Linked DNA regions of Homo sapiens: region 2 is linked to region 1. The links come from fine-mapping of genetic effects on gene expression. Tissue or cell type: whole blood. Region 1 holds a variant in brackets; the other region holds the start of a gene. All regions are shown on one strand. Distances are between the middles of the regions.

The links. PIP is the estimated chance that this variant, and not a neighbour inherited with it, causes the effect.
Region 2: it holds the start of PRKCH, and the variant in region 1 is fine-mapped to the expression of PRKCH in whole blood (TOPMed, PIP above 0.99). The same link has a PIP of 0.9 or more in lung.

Annotation. Positions count from the first base shown.
Region 1 is chr14:61,546,361-61,554,299 of GRCh38, forward strand. PRKCH (protein kinase C eta) reads left to right here. Exons shown (of 14, transcript NM_006255.5): 13 at 1,383-1,526; 14 at 3,325-4,616. The coding sequence ends at 3,471. Among named protein-coding and RNA genes, the nearest start is that of PRKCH-AS2, 4.8 kb to the left of the region's middle. RefSeq lists enhancers at 5,549-6,059, 6,060-6,569, 6,464-6,513. The variant A/G (reference allele first, on the strand shown) is at 4,565.
Region 2 is chr14:61,318,924-61,325,336 of GRCh38, forward strand. It overlaps PRKCH (protein kinase C eta), which reads left to right and starts at 2,656. Exons shown (of 14, transcript NM_006255.5): 1 at 2,656-3,541. The coding sequence starts at 3,179. PRKCH-AS1 (PRKCH antisense RNA 1) reads right to left here and starts at 3,895. Exons shown (of 5, transcript NR_186042.1): 1 at 3,612-3,895. RefSeq lists silencers at 2,449-2,718, 2,869-3,038 and enhancers at 3,000-3,544, 3,545-4,088.

The sequences.
Region 1 (7,939 bases):
CCACCTGTGGCCTTTAATTCCTGTTACTAGGAGAGAGGAGAAGCGATTAAACCCTGTCAGTATATTCATTTATTAGCTGCCCTTTGAAGCTTTTTTGAAAGCATTTTACAAGGTATATCCCGTCAGGTTGCTTAGGAACTTTTGCAGCCTCCTTCTTCAACATTATCATTTTCATTTGAATCAACACTGGCAGCTTGACACCTCTGGACACCTGGCATGGCAGTGGGAGGTACCTCCAAACACTGTCTTTCCGTGTCTGCACCTTCAACAAGATTTTCTCTGTAAATTCAGCTCCAAAACAATTTTTATAAACACAGCATTACTTTTGTGTTGTTCACAAATCAGATTTGGAAAGAGGTGCTTGGGGACTGTCATGAGTCTATTTAAAGATAACCTGATTTAAATAAAAACAAAAACAAAACTTTTTATCCAAGGCAATTTTCTTTCAATATGGGAAATTAAATTAGCTTCAGTGTCTTTGAAATTGAGAACCACACTCCGGCCATGAAAAGTGAATTATCCTGTACTAATCCTTGCTCAGGAAGTGATCAAAACACCTTTCCTGGCTATTTTGTGAAAGCAGATTTAGCCCAGCATATTTTGATAGGAGCCCAGCACTAAGGAAGTTTCCCAACTGATGGAAATACAGAGAATCTCTATGCACACATCGCTTAGCTGTGTGGCAGCGCTCGTTTTAGTTTTTGGTCTATGGAGCAATGGAATCTCAGTCATTGAACCTACTTCGAAACAGCAGTGGTGGGGGGAACATCTTGAAGAAAAGCCTTTCATCTAGAGCTATGATATCTTCGCTGCATAAAGAAAAGTGGCCAACTTTGTTTTTTCTAGAGCCAGGACACAGACCTTTTCAGTATGTCACCTTTGCTGCTTCTTCACACAGATCTTCAAAAATAACGACTCTCTCTCCTCTCTGTGGTCTCGTCAGAGAGCAGGAATCCTGGCCAGCTGGTCAGGTCACTCAGAAAAATGGCACAGCTGTTTCTGAAAGTAGCCCCATTCATAAGATGTCTGCTGCCCACAACTGCAGTGTTGGGGAAAGGCACACTGTTATAAAGAGCTTCTTTTCTTTAAAGAGGAAAGAAAAATACATGGTGTTTACAGAAAAGAAAACTGGACCCTCCTGCTTTCTTTTAGTGGCCATGTCTGAAATGGAAGTGGGAAAAGCCATAAATCCACACAGGCAATCGCGCCTTTAAGGCATGATTCATACTGACTGTGCTGCCTGTGATGGAAAACCCAGCTAGTTAAGCAAGACCTGCCAGAAAGTCTCGCACAGCTCCTCTGCCATGGCTGATGCCTGCTGTCTTGTGACGTGCTGGTTGTATGTGAATGAATGATTGACACTTTCTCTCTCTCTCACTCAGTTCATGACCAAGAACCCCACCATGCGCTTGGGCAGCCTGACTCAGGGAGGCGAGCACGCCATCTTGAGACATCCTTTTTTTAAGGAAATCGACTGGGCCCAGCTGAACCATCGCCAAATAGAACCGCCTTTCAGACCCAGAATCGTAAGTGTCCCAGGCTGTCACAGAGACATTCCTTTCTTCAGATGTCACAGCATTCCACCAAAGTCCGTAGAAGAGCTGGATGGCCCCTGTGGGTGACAGACCAGAAATTCAGCTGGATACTGCACAGGGCAGCCTCCCCTGGGGGGAATCTGGGCTCCTTGTCCATGGGACAACAATGTCTTCATGTGCCCACATTAATTCTTACCAAGTTTCACCCCTCGTTTACCCAATCTCCAACTTCTCTCAACCTAAATTAAAATCTTGTAGGGTATAAGAGGCCTGAAACTTTCCAGGTTTCCCCAAAAGAGTTTGGCTAATTGAGAAAGTCATTGTTCTGGCCAATTTCCTCATGCTCCTTGGGGCACTTTTTGTGCCTTTTCTAAGCCCCTGAGAAAGCAGAGTGGGTAGGAGATGTTGCTCACTTCACTGAGCCTGGCCTCTTGGCTTGGAGAGCCTGGGTCTGTAATAGCTGCTGCAGTGCAGAGCCCAGGCCAGGCCAGGCTTCTTTGACCAAAGAAATACTGGGATCTCCAGGGGCTCCTCTCCAAGCTCTGCAGCTGAGGCTGGTGGCCTTCCTGAGCGTGGTCCCGCTTGTGGTCTGAGAGCTGAGCTCGTGCTCATCTGTGGGTCAAGAGCTCCACAGGAGGAAGGCAGAGAAGCAAGGCTAGCGATAGATCAAGAGTGATGGGGAGACCTGGCGTGGTGGCTCATGCCTATAATCCCAGCACTTTGGGAGGCCGAGGCAGATGGATCACTTGAGGTCAGGAGTTTGAGACTAGCCTGGCCAACATGGCAAAACCCCATCTCTACTAAAAATACAAAAAAAAAAAGCCTGGTGTGGTGATGCACACCTCTAATCCCTGCTACTCAGGAGGCTGAAGTAGAAGGATTGCTTGAACCTAGGAGGTGGAGATTGCAGTGAGCCGAGATTGCGTCATGCGCTCCAGCCTGGGCAACTGAGTTAGACTTTGTCTCAAAAAAAAAAAAAAAAAAGTGATAGAGAAATATCATTGATTAAGGTAAGAGCAGTGAGATGTGTGATACTCACTTAGAAATGATCTTTGCAGCGTTTGTTTATACAGATATAAAATACTCAACTTTTAAAAACATACAGTGCACTTAATCACTAACAGCCTACTAGGCTGTTGGACACCAGGCACCCAGAGGTAAAGCCGTTCCTTCAATGGTCAGCCCCCTGCCAGCGCCCCTGGGATTAGGGAGAGCATGGCCTTCAGAGGCTGGAGCCTGTAGTCCTAACTGCACAGCTGGTCCAGCAGGGCGTAACGCATCTACCTAGAGAGTAAAATGACCAACAGTTGTTCCCTAAGCTCAGCACTTGCAAGAAATCTTTTGGGAAGATCTCTTCAAATGTCTAGAACTCTGCGCAAACAATAGGTAGGACAAGTGTGAACCTACCCAACCTCTGTTGACAAATACAGCTGCACACCCCTCAGCGAGGCCTGCTGTGAAATGCCACCTTGGTGAAATGAGAATAAAGGGTGAGTGAGCCAGCTGCTTTTGGATGACCAAATTAATTCTTAGCCTCCCATTAAGACAGGCCTGCTCAGCAAGATTTTCATGGGATTAGTGAATTGGTGGTTGCCAAATGCCATAATAATGCACCATGCAGTAGACTTGCTGTAAAGCACAGTTTCATCATAACAATAACTGTAAATAATGCTACTGAACAAGCTACAGAGCACTCCTCTGAACTCACTGGAATGGGCTATATCCCATGCAAGATGAGTAAGCCTCAAGCGCAAAAATCTCACCCTTGTTTCCCTTTTTTTTTTGGCAGAAATCCCGAGAAGATGTCAGTAATTTTGACCCTGACTTCATAAAGGAAGAGCCAGTTTTAACTCCAATTGATGAGGGACATCTTCCAATGATTAACCAGGATGAGTTTAGAAACTTTTCCTATGTGTCTCCAGAATTGCAACCATAGCCTTATGGGGAGTGAGAGAGAGGGCACGAGAACCCAAAGGGAATAGAGATTCTCCAGGAATTTCCTCTATGGGACCTTCCCAGCATCAGCCTTAGAACAAGAACCTTACCTTCAAGGAGCAAGTGAAGAACTCTGTGAAGGATGGAACTTTCAGATATCAACTATTTAGAGTCCAGAGGGAGCCATGGCACTAGAAATAGTTGATAATGAAATGAGATTTTATGAAGTATACCGCTCCACCTATGAGCGTCTGTCTCTGTGGGCTTGGGATGTTAACAGGAGCCAAAAGGAGGGAAAGTGTGAAGAATAAAGTAGATCTGAGAAATTCTGAGCCAATCAGGCTTCTTAATTCAAGAGACAAACCAAGACGTTCTGTCAACTGTGCTGTGCTCTTCTTTAAGCCAATGAACCCCAATTCCTGGCAGTCTACAAGAAGTCTCTTAATGCTAATGAAGAATTTAAAGGTCTTTTTAAGGAAATGAAGGGCTTTCCAAATAGAATGATTTACTCTGAAGAAACAAACAATGGTATCTCTGAAACTCACAACCTAAAGCCCAATCTTGAAAATATGTTGTGCACCAAGACGACTGCTTCAGCTTCTTCTCTTATCCTTACTTTCTTTAATAGATATTTATTAAACTGTCCAGTGAAAAGGTGCCACAATGCCCAGTATTGTAAACAACAGGTTTGCATTCATGAAGCTTTCATTCATTCTGGAGTCTACTAATTTACCTGAATGGTGTTTGCATTCTGTGAAATGCCTCTCCACGTTGCATATGTCACACTTTTGTCTGCACATAACTCTTTTTTCACAAGAAGGGTCACTGCCACAACAGCACAGTCAGCGGGTGAATTACAGGTGCCTGCTGCCTGCCTACCTGGGTAATCTGATCTTGTCTGTATCGCCGTGTGCTCATCACTGAAGAATTGCAGGCCACTCATGTCAGTGACCAGATTTGTGGCTTATAAACATTAGCAGTTTATTTATGTTTTAAGATGCAAAGATGTGTGTTTGATATTCACTTTAATAATTAGAAATGGATCTTGTAAACAGGGCATATATCAAAGATGACCTTATAATATGTACCCGAAT[A/G]TACAGTTCAAGAATTTTGTCTGACTGGAAATAAATGCATTTTGTAGCAAAAGGAAGTGTTTTGACTAGAATGATTTGTCTCCTTCCCACTAAGACAGTAGATTTCCAATCAAAATAAAACCTTGAGCAGAATGGGTAGAACTCAACTCACAGAAAATTCCTGAGAGGAGAGGTTGATGTAAGTTCTTCTGTGATTCTCTGAAGTAGATGTGGCCTGTCTCTTACTGACCAAAACTTCTGTCCTGAATGAGGGTGATGACTGCTAAGCATAGCTGTAACAGACCAACCCTCAAGATCTCAGGGGCTAGACACCATAAATGTTTATTTCTCATTCACATAAAGTAGCATGTAAGTTCAACAATCTTCCTCCATCTTATAACTACACTATCTGGAAAATGTAGCTTTCCAAAGTCTCCAGAGCAAGGAAGAGACATGGAGGGGGCGCCGGCTGCCTGCCTGCCTCTCCTAGGAGGGACACACCTCACCTCTTCTCACAATGACTGGCTAAAACATGGCTTCCCTCTAACTACAGACGGGATAGGGGAATTATAGAGCAGCTGAGGAGTAGCTGGCTAGTACTGACAGTCTCTTCTCTGTCATAGGTTCTTTTTTTTGCATTCCAATGCGAACACTTACTTTTGAATGAATAGAGTAGCTAGGAACTTCCCTTTCCATTTGTGTAGCACTTACCACTCATAGTCATCACTCTCACCCACATCATGCCACTAGATCTTCATGACGTGCCCACTATTCCCACTGATGATAGTGTGAGTACTGCAGTACATACTACAAATGGCAAGAGAGGCTCAGAGAAGTTGAGTTCATTGGTTTCCCAAAGGGTTCAGGCTTGGTAAAGAGTAGATCCAGCTCTAGGGTCTAAATCTTTGATGCTGTAGTCTGGGAAAGGGAAGGATCATTCTGACTTTGGGACTTTTTTGGCCTTCATAGCTCCTCCACTTTGGGTCTTCTATTGCTCTGTGGGATTGATTAACTTTTTGTTATGGTTCACTCCACTCTGGTAAACAACCACGAAAAATAAAGCATGCCTCCTGTTTCATTCACAAAACTCATTATCATAGCCACGCAGAGCCAAAACACTGTCTTTGGTAAGTCTGTGATCACTCAGCAGCTTCCTTCTTCACAATTGCTTCTCAAGCCCACTACCTGGGTTCCCCAGTTTGGGTTGAGTCCATTCTTTTGAGGCTATTTATTCCATGCCTATCAGGTTATTCAATAGCTAATGTTTATATCTGAGAAGAGAGAAGATACACAGGATATTTACCTAAAGCTCAAATGAGTCTTCAATTCCTGGTTACAATTCTACTTCACATCTTTCTTCAGTTCTGCTAGACCTGGCATCCCCTTCCAAGGGATCACAAGGCTGTCTTGCCCACACTTCCTGAAGAAGGCTGGCACAGAGCAGGTAGCGAGCCATTCAGGCAACTGGGCCAGAGTCCACTGGGGCTGCTGGGTTCCCTCAGCACAGTGGGCAGCATGGAGGTCAAGACGAGGTCACATTGGGACCTTTCACTCCCTCAGGTCCATCTTAAGACATCGTCAGGCCTTATCATCCCACTGTCCTTCCCAGCCAGTCCTCATCCCACACCCATTTGCTCCTGCTCTCCCAAGCTATTCCACGGTGACCTAACTGAATTAGACACATGGCCTTGAGTGTTTGAAAGGACAATAACTTCAAGCCTTTGCTTTGGGATGTGGGTCAGCCTTTGACTGCCAAAGTTGCTTTCACTTAATGGCTAACATGTTGCATGTTTATTACATGTGAAGCCCTGTTCTAAATACTTTAAGTGTATTTACTTATTCAATACCCCCCATGAGGTGGGTACTCTCAGTTTCATTGTACAGATGGGGGAAAGTGAAGTACAAGAGATTAAGTCACTTGTCTAAATTCACACAACTAAAGCAGTGGGGTTAGGATTTGGATCAAGCAGTTTAACTCCAGAGTCCCTACTTTTAGCTCAGTTCAGTGAGGTTCTTCTATGAAAGCGAATTCTATTTTTCCACCTTTGTGGGGTTGGCAGGAAGCACCAAGATAAACTGCCAGCTGGGCAGGACAGTATTAGCCCTCCCCTGGGTAGAACAATTTATCAGCAGTGGGACTGCATGATTTGCATATCAAGGGGCTGGAGCTGCTAACCCCAGTTCTTGGAACTGGGGCAGGCCAGGGTGATGCAATCAGGACTTCAACCTCCCTGAATAGGGGAAGAGGAAGTAGTCTGGTTCTCTCTGAATCCCGTGAGCCCCATCTGAACCCCTGGGGTAACTTCTGAGCCTTGGTGGAGTTTCCAGCCCTTTCTCCCCTCGTAGAGGAGCCACTTCATGTTTTAGTAACTCTTCATCACCCACCCCGCCAGCTCATGCAGCAGCGTCAGGAAGAAGGTGCGCAGCCTGGAACCTACCTTGGCAGCTGCATGTTTACAGCTATGAAGCTGAGCTGGTGTAACATGTTAGCAAAGAAAAGAGCAAAAATAGACCAGGCACGGTGGCTCACGCCTGTAATCTCAGTACTTTGGGAGGCCGAGGTAGGTGGATAACTTGAGATCAGGAGCTCAAGACCAGCCTGGCCAACATGGTGAAACCCCGTCTCTACTAAAAAATTACAAAAGTTAGCCGGGCGTGGTGGTGGGCGCCTGTAATCCCAGCTACTCAGGAGGCTGAGGCAGGAGAATAGTTTCAACCCTGGAGGTGGAGGCTGCAATGAGCTGAGATCACGCCACTGCACTCCAGCCTGGGCGACAGAGGGAGACCCTGTCTCAAAACAAAACAAAAAAAAGCAAAGCAAAAATAAAAGCATCCCATTTGTCATTTATTGATCTTAATTGAATCCTGACCTCAGATGATCTGCCCGCCTCGGCCTCCCAAAGTGCTGGAATTACAGGCATGAGCCACCACACCCCGGATCTTAATTGGGTACACATTGCCTTGAAAATATTCCAGCCACGGATTTGACCATTTCACATGCCAACATGATAAAGCTGTTCATTATTCCCAGGTTTGGTCATCCTGGTTGCTTAATCTAGCAATGTTGACTTAAAATGACTAGACAGCCCACAGTGATTGCCCCCGGCTCAGGGTCACACTGGGCCCTGTAACTTCTCATTTTACATCATCCAAGGATAAGACTCCAGTACAACTGTAGTAGATGTTTGTGATGAAAATGAGCCCTTTGCTGAGATGTTCCTCTGAATTGAGTTGCAAGTTGGCCAAAGCTGGCCAGAGTGCAGCTGTAAAGGGAGCTTTGTAGTCTCCTTTTGTTCCTTTGTTGAATTGTAACCAAAGCTAAGGGAGCTACCCTGGGCTTTATCCCGTCCCCACCTCTTCACCTCCACTGCCCTGCCAACTGTTCTTTCCCTCCTC
Region 2 (6,413 bases), 230 kb before region 1:
CTCAAGCAGTACTCCTGCCTCAGCCTCCCAAAGTGTTGGGTTTATAGGTGTGAGCCACCTTGCCTGTCCCCAGAGAGGTATTTTAAAACACAAATCCTCATCTTACCCTGGCTCTGCTTAACAGCCTTCAGAGGCGTCCAGTGGCCCATAGATAATGTCCAAGGCTTTCCTGTGATCTACCAGTCTGGTCAGTGTGACCACCTTTGCAAGCTCATTTCAGCCACTCTCCCCTCACCTTCCTCAGCTCCAGCCACGCCTTCCTCAGCTCCAGCCACGTAGGGTGCTTTTGGTTCCCAAACAGGCCAACCCATCTGTCTCCTCAGGAGCTCTCAATGAGCTGATCTCTCTGCTATTTGCTTTTTCAAGGAACCCTTCCCTGACCACCCATCCAGTTATAATACATCACCCCTTGGCACCGTGGGCTTTTCCTTCACTGCACCCTCTTCTATTAGTTGTTTTTCCTCCTTGTGGGACTGTAAGCCCCAGGAGGGCAGGCACCATGGCTGTCTGACCCACTGCTCTGTCACCATTGCCAATCCTGATAGGTACTGATAGGGTGAAGATGGAGTGTCTGGTATCGTCATATCCCAGTCCCAGGACAGCTGTGTGGCCACCTACCATTTGGGGACTGTTTTCTTTTTAAAATTTAAAAAAAAATTTAAAGTCTACACCCCATGATTCTGTATGGGGACTGTTTTCTTTTAGCCCCAAAGTCCAACAGGAGCAAATCCTTTAGTGGCTCTTAAAGCTAGAGTTCAGCTGTTTGGAGGAAAGGGTGACAGAGCTGACCCACAGGGTAGATGCGACATCTTCCCCTGGAGCACTAAGGCCAAACAGGAGCCCCCTGGACGTTTGGGAGCAGGCTTTACAAGCCCTGCCTAAAGCTAAGATGTCATTAGAGTGATGCGTTGCATCCCTGCCTTGTTCTCTAAGGAAGCTTTGGTGTTTTCAAGACAGGCCCTTTCCCCCCTGGCCCATTGTCCTTACTTGTTTTCATTCTGTATAGTGCTGTTATTACGGGTCAGGCCTCCTTGCACTCATGTGAAATCGTTGAGAACCTACTCAATTAGAAAGTTCTGAACAGGGCCTTAGAGGAGTGGGGGCTAGAAAGATGAACCTGGGGCCAGGCACGGGGGCTCATGCCTGTAATCTTAACACTTTAGGAGGCAGGGGCTGGAAGATCACTTGAACCTGGGAGCTGGAGGTTATGGTAAGCCATGATCACACCGCTGTATTCCAGCCTGGATGACAAAGCAAAACCCAGTCTCTAAAACATAAAAGAAAGAAAGGAGGGAAGGAAGAAAGAAAGGAATGAAAGCAAGCCGAATCTGCTCCGAGGGAACCAGTATAGCAAGACAGAATGTAATCAAGTATCTTAAGAGTGGCCTAGGCTTGGCTGGGTGCTGTGGCTCACGCCTGTAATCTCAGCACTTTGGGAGGCCGAGGCAGGCGAATCACTTGAGGTCGGGAGTTTGAGACCAGCCTGACCAACATGGAGAAACCCTGTCTCTACTAAAAATACAAAATTAGCCGGGCGTGGTGGCGCATGCCTGTAATTCCAGCTACTCGGGAGGCTGGGGCAGGTGAATCGCTCGAACCTGGGAGGCGGAGGTTGCGGTGAGCCGAGATGGCGCCATTGCACTCCAGCCTGGGCAACAAAAGCGAAACTCCGTCTCAAAAACAACAACAACAACAACAACAAAAAGTGGCCTAGGCTTTTTGGGGAACAAATTGGTTGTGGCTGGCCCTCAGGGAGCAAGCTTTGCGGCATAGCAGCGTAGGCTAAAAGGTCCTCCCCGGAGACAAAATCTGCAGGGACCACGGGGTGGGAAGCATCAGAAGGCTGCCCACTCTGACTGCAAATACAACAAGCTGGAGTGTTCCTAGAAGAGGCAATTTCTTCCGCGTGTGTGTTGGGGACAGCCTGTGTGTGTGAACATTTTCTGCCCTTGCCGCGCAGAGCTGGGTGGACCAGAAACCACCCGCAGAGGAAGAGACTTATTACCTCTTGGCCATGTCTGTCTCCAGAAGAACCGACCTTTCCTGCTCTATGTGCAACAAGACACACCTTCCGAGGAAGGAGGCGAACAGGATTTCCATCATTACTACTGCCCTATTAAAACACACACATACACACAACTGTGTAATTAGCCTCTGCAGGAAAGGCGCACAAACAGGATGCGTTCGAGCTGACCCCGGGATGAGCCATCCCTGTAAATATTAGGAAAAAGAACCTCCCCGCCGTGCCCCCGCCTCCGGCCAGGGCCTCTTGGGGATGGCCCTGCAGGGTCACCAGCCCACCGGGGAGGTTGGGAGAGAGGGGGCGGGCGACTCCTCGCCGCGCGGGTTCCTGGCTGGAGCGCCCTCCTCTGCGTCCTCCCAACCTTCCATCGCTCCCCAGGTCAGTCTACCACGCCTCAGGTGTTTGCTCGGGCTGGGCCACGAACCCTTTCCTTTTTGGCCTGCGCCCGGGGTGGCCCCTAACCCGCAGCGCACGGCCAGACCCAGCGCTACAAGGAGGGCGCGCAGGGCGGCGCAAGCGGGCACTGGCCTCCCGGGGGCTTGCGCGGGGATCCACCCACCGCAGGGCCGGGCCGCGGACCGCGGGCCACGCCCCTGGGGTCCGGAAGGCGCGGGAGCGGACGCGGGGGTTCTGTGAACTTGGAACCTGGCGGTGCGAGGTTCTCGCCGGGGATGCGGCGGCGGCAGCTGCTTCCTGGTTTGAAGCTCGCCGAGTGGGGGAGAGCGTGAGCCTTCGGAGGCGGGGGCAGGAGGAGAAGCAAGAGGAGGCGGGGGAAGAGACGCTTGGGGCTGGGGCTCACCGGACGGGTAGGTCCGGCTCTCCAGGGAGAGGAGCTGCCCGGCCCTGGAGAAGGGGCGAGTCCTGCGCGAGTCCCCGGGAGGCGCCGCGCGCTTGGAAGGGACGGTCGGGCTTCCCCGGCCCGCTGAGGGCTCGGCGGCGGGCTCCCCTCCTTTCCACCTCGGGAGGGAGGGAAGGAGGGGAGGGAAAAGTCCCACGGAGGAGGCAGAATGGCCAGTCGAGGGGCGCTTAGGCGCTGCCTTTCCCCAGGGCTGCCTCGACTCCTGCACCTGTCCCGAGGGCTGGCCTGAGACGGGACTCCCGGTTCTCCCGCTGCGAAGCAGCGCGGCCCCCCGGGGCCGGGGCAGCGGCGCCGGCATGTCGTCTGGCACCATGAAGTTCAATGGCTATTTGAGGGTCCGCATCGGTGAGGCAGTGGGGCTGCAGCCCACCCGCTGGTCCCTGCGCCACTCGCTCTTCAAGAAGGGCCACCAGCTGCTGGACCCCTATCTGACGGTGAGCGTGGACCAGGTGCGCGTGGGCCAGACCAGCACCAAGCAGAAGACCAACAAACCCACGTACAACGAGGAGTTTTGCGCTAACGTCACCGACGGCGGCCACCTCGAGTTGGCCGTCTTCCACGAGACGCCCCTGGGCTACGACCACTTCGTGGCCAACTGCACCCTGCAGTTCCAGGAGCTGCTGCGCACGACCGGCGCCTCGGACACCTTCGAGGGTTGGGTGAGTAGCGGTGACCCCTTCCCTTTGTGTCCACCCAACCCCCGTTCCCCTTATGTTTTTCAAAACTCACCCGGGTCCCGCTTTCCCATCGCTTTGTGGCTGAGGGAATTCCCTCCAGACTTTGGTCTTCGTCCACGTGGCCGCGGCACTGGTGACGCGACCGCGGTGGGTGTGTGCAGGCGCAGGTGTGTCTCCAGGAAGCCGGCCTGGACACGATCCCCTTTCAGGACAGCGGCTTGGCCTAACGGGAAGTCGGGCAGGGGTCCAGGGCGGTCACCCTTTCCGCCCAGTCTTTGGGTAAGGAGCTCCAACTTTCAGCACGAGAGTGATAGGTAGGAAAGGCAGGGAAGGAGTGATACAAAAGGGACTTGATTTGGGTAAAGTGCTTCAAGCGCTACTTAGGAGAAAGCCGTACATTCTCGCGAGTATTATTCATAATGTTTATGGATACATGTTGGTTCAGCCGCTCAGACGTGCACACGTGTTTCGGCTTGCACATCCCAGAGGTACATGAGCTACACTGGCAGGGAAATGAGCGCCTGGGTCTGCACGTTGGCAGTTTTATTATTTAGCATTTTTCCAAGGAGATGAGATTTACATATACTTGCAAGTAACTTAGTCAGTCCGAGGTGGGAGTCCTGCAGTGTGGGTTTCTGCTGCTATGGGTCTGAGAAGAGGCTGTAAGGACTCCTCAGGAGGTTGTTAACTGTCTTCCCTCCCCCCATCACCAGCCTGTGTTCCTGGGTATTGACGTGTAGCTACCCGCAGCTCTCCCCTTGCCTCTGCTTTTCACATAGTTCCCAGGAGGCATAATTTCTGCTGTAAATCAATTAAAACTTCTAGAGCGCTCTACACGGTGCTAACATGCTTTTACTGCCTAATCCTCACACTGTCTTTGTGATGCAGGTGTCATCGTTCCCACTTTGAGATGATGGAATGATAATTATAATAAAGTAGTCTGGTTTGGCAAAGTGGAGTACGCCATTTGAAGACTCTCAGGAGTTTAATAGTTTAAGTTCTGGAGGGAGTCAGTTTTGAACCCAATATCAGTATTGAAAATGTTTGAAATTTACAAGTGGTGAAATCAGATGGATGGTGATGAAGGCTCATTTAGGTATTTATTTTATACTTTGTGGAATTAGTAATTTTACCGTATATTTTCTAAAATTAAAGATGGCTTGTGGAGCTATTCCTTTCTTTTAAATAGAAGTACAAAAACCATAATGACTAACCTTAATCGTCAAATTATATTGAGTTAATTTCCCTTCAGCCTAATTTACTTTGTGGTACTTAGAAGTGGGGACTAGAGAGGAATTGCTAAAATACAGTTAGATATTTACATTTATCCTGTGAATTTCTGGAAATGAAATAGAAGTGAGTGTAGGCATCCAGATGGAATTGTTGAGTTCTATTAGTGTCTGATTAGGAGTTAGGTCGGGCAAAGCTCTAGAGGAACTAGGTTCTGAATTATGGTGGTGCAGATTGGCCAGTGGCCATGAGAAGCATCTCTTCCTGGAGATAGCCTAGACTCGTCCTTCTCAACCATAATCTTCCCACTTGAATCACCCAGGGACCTTTAAAAAATCCCCACTTTTAAAGATTCTAGATAGGAATCTCTGGCTGTGGGACCCCATCATCCGTACTTTTAGGCTCACCAGGTGATTCCAGTATGCAGTCGAGGTGGAGAACCTGCAGCCTACATGAAGACCAAAAGATGAGGACTTCTTGGTGTCATAAGTGTAGGAAGATCCACGTTATCTGACTAGGTGGCATGTACAGAGCTGCTTATTGTTCCACTGGATGAATATTCAGTGTAAATCAGATATCGATATTTATAATGGTCTGAAATAATTACACTTAGATGTTTAATATAACCCACTGGTGGTGTTTTGGAAAACGTTGAGTGGTTGGTAGGGAGGGTCAGCATTTAAATGACCTTGAAACCAGCAGTTTTTCATGCGTTTGCATGCATCAGAAGGCAGATTTTTTTTTTGTTGTTTTTTTTAAAAAGGTTTTGGGTATTTCAGAACTGTAAGGATATGGAACATAGGTTGGGCAGAGTGTTGTTTCTTTTCTTTTTAAAGAAAATCTTGTTAAAAAAATTTGGAAATATATGGAATGCATGCTTTTTTAAAAAAGTATCCTTTATAGGTTCAAAAATGCTTTAAAAAAATAGAGATGGGGTCTTGCTACCTTGTTGACCAGGCTGGTCTTGAACTTGTGGCCTCAAGCCATCCTCCCACTTCAACCTCCCAAAGTGCTGGGATTACAGGTGTGAGCCACTGCATCTGGCCCAAAGGTGCTTTTGAAGTTCAGGATTAAAGAAATACTTATTTATCTTTAGTATTTTAAATTGACATGTAGTTTATTCAGAGAGTTAAATGTGGAATAATTGAATTTACTCCATAATAAATTTATGGTTGCAAGTGGAACTACAGATTACTGACTTAAAAAAAAACTATTGAAGTTGCAGGTTCAAAAAACCCCCAAAACCTAGTGACTTAGTTTTTGCTAGATCCAGAGAAGCTCTTAGCTGTAGGTTATGGATGAGAGGATTCAATATGGTTAAGATCTCAATTCTTCCCAAAGTATTCAATAGGTTCAGTATAATCTCAGTCAAAATCTAAGTTTGTTGTAGAAATTGACAGACTGACTTTAAAATTTATATGGAAATGTAAAGTACTGAGACCAGTCTAAGAATAGTTTTGAAAAAGAACAAGTTGGGGGACTTAGAGTATCTGATTTCAAGGCTAACTGTAACATGACCGTAATCAAGATAATGTGATATTGGAATAAAGAGAGTCATACAGATCAGTGGAATGAATAGAAGAGAGTCTAGGAATAGATCCACACATATATGACCCACTGATTT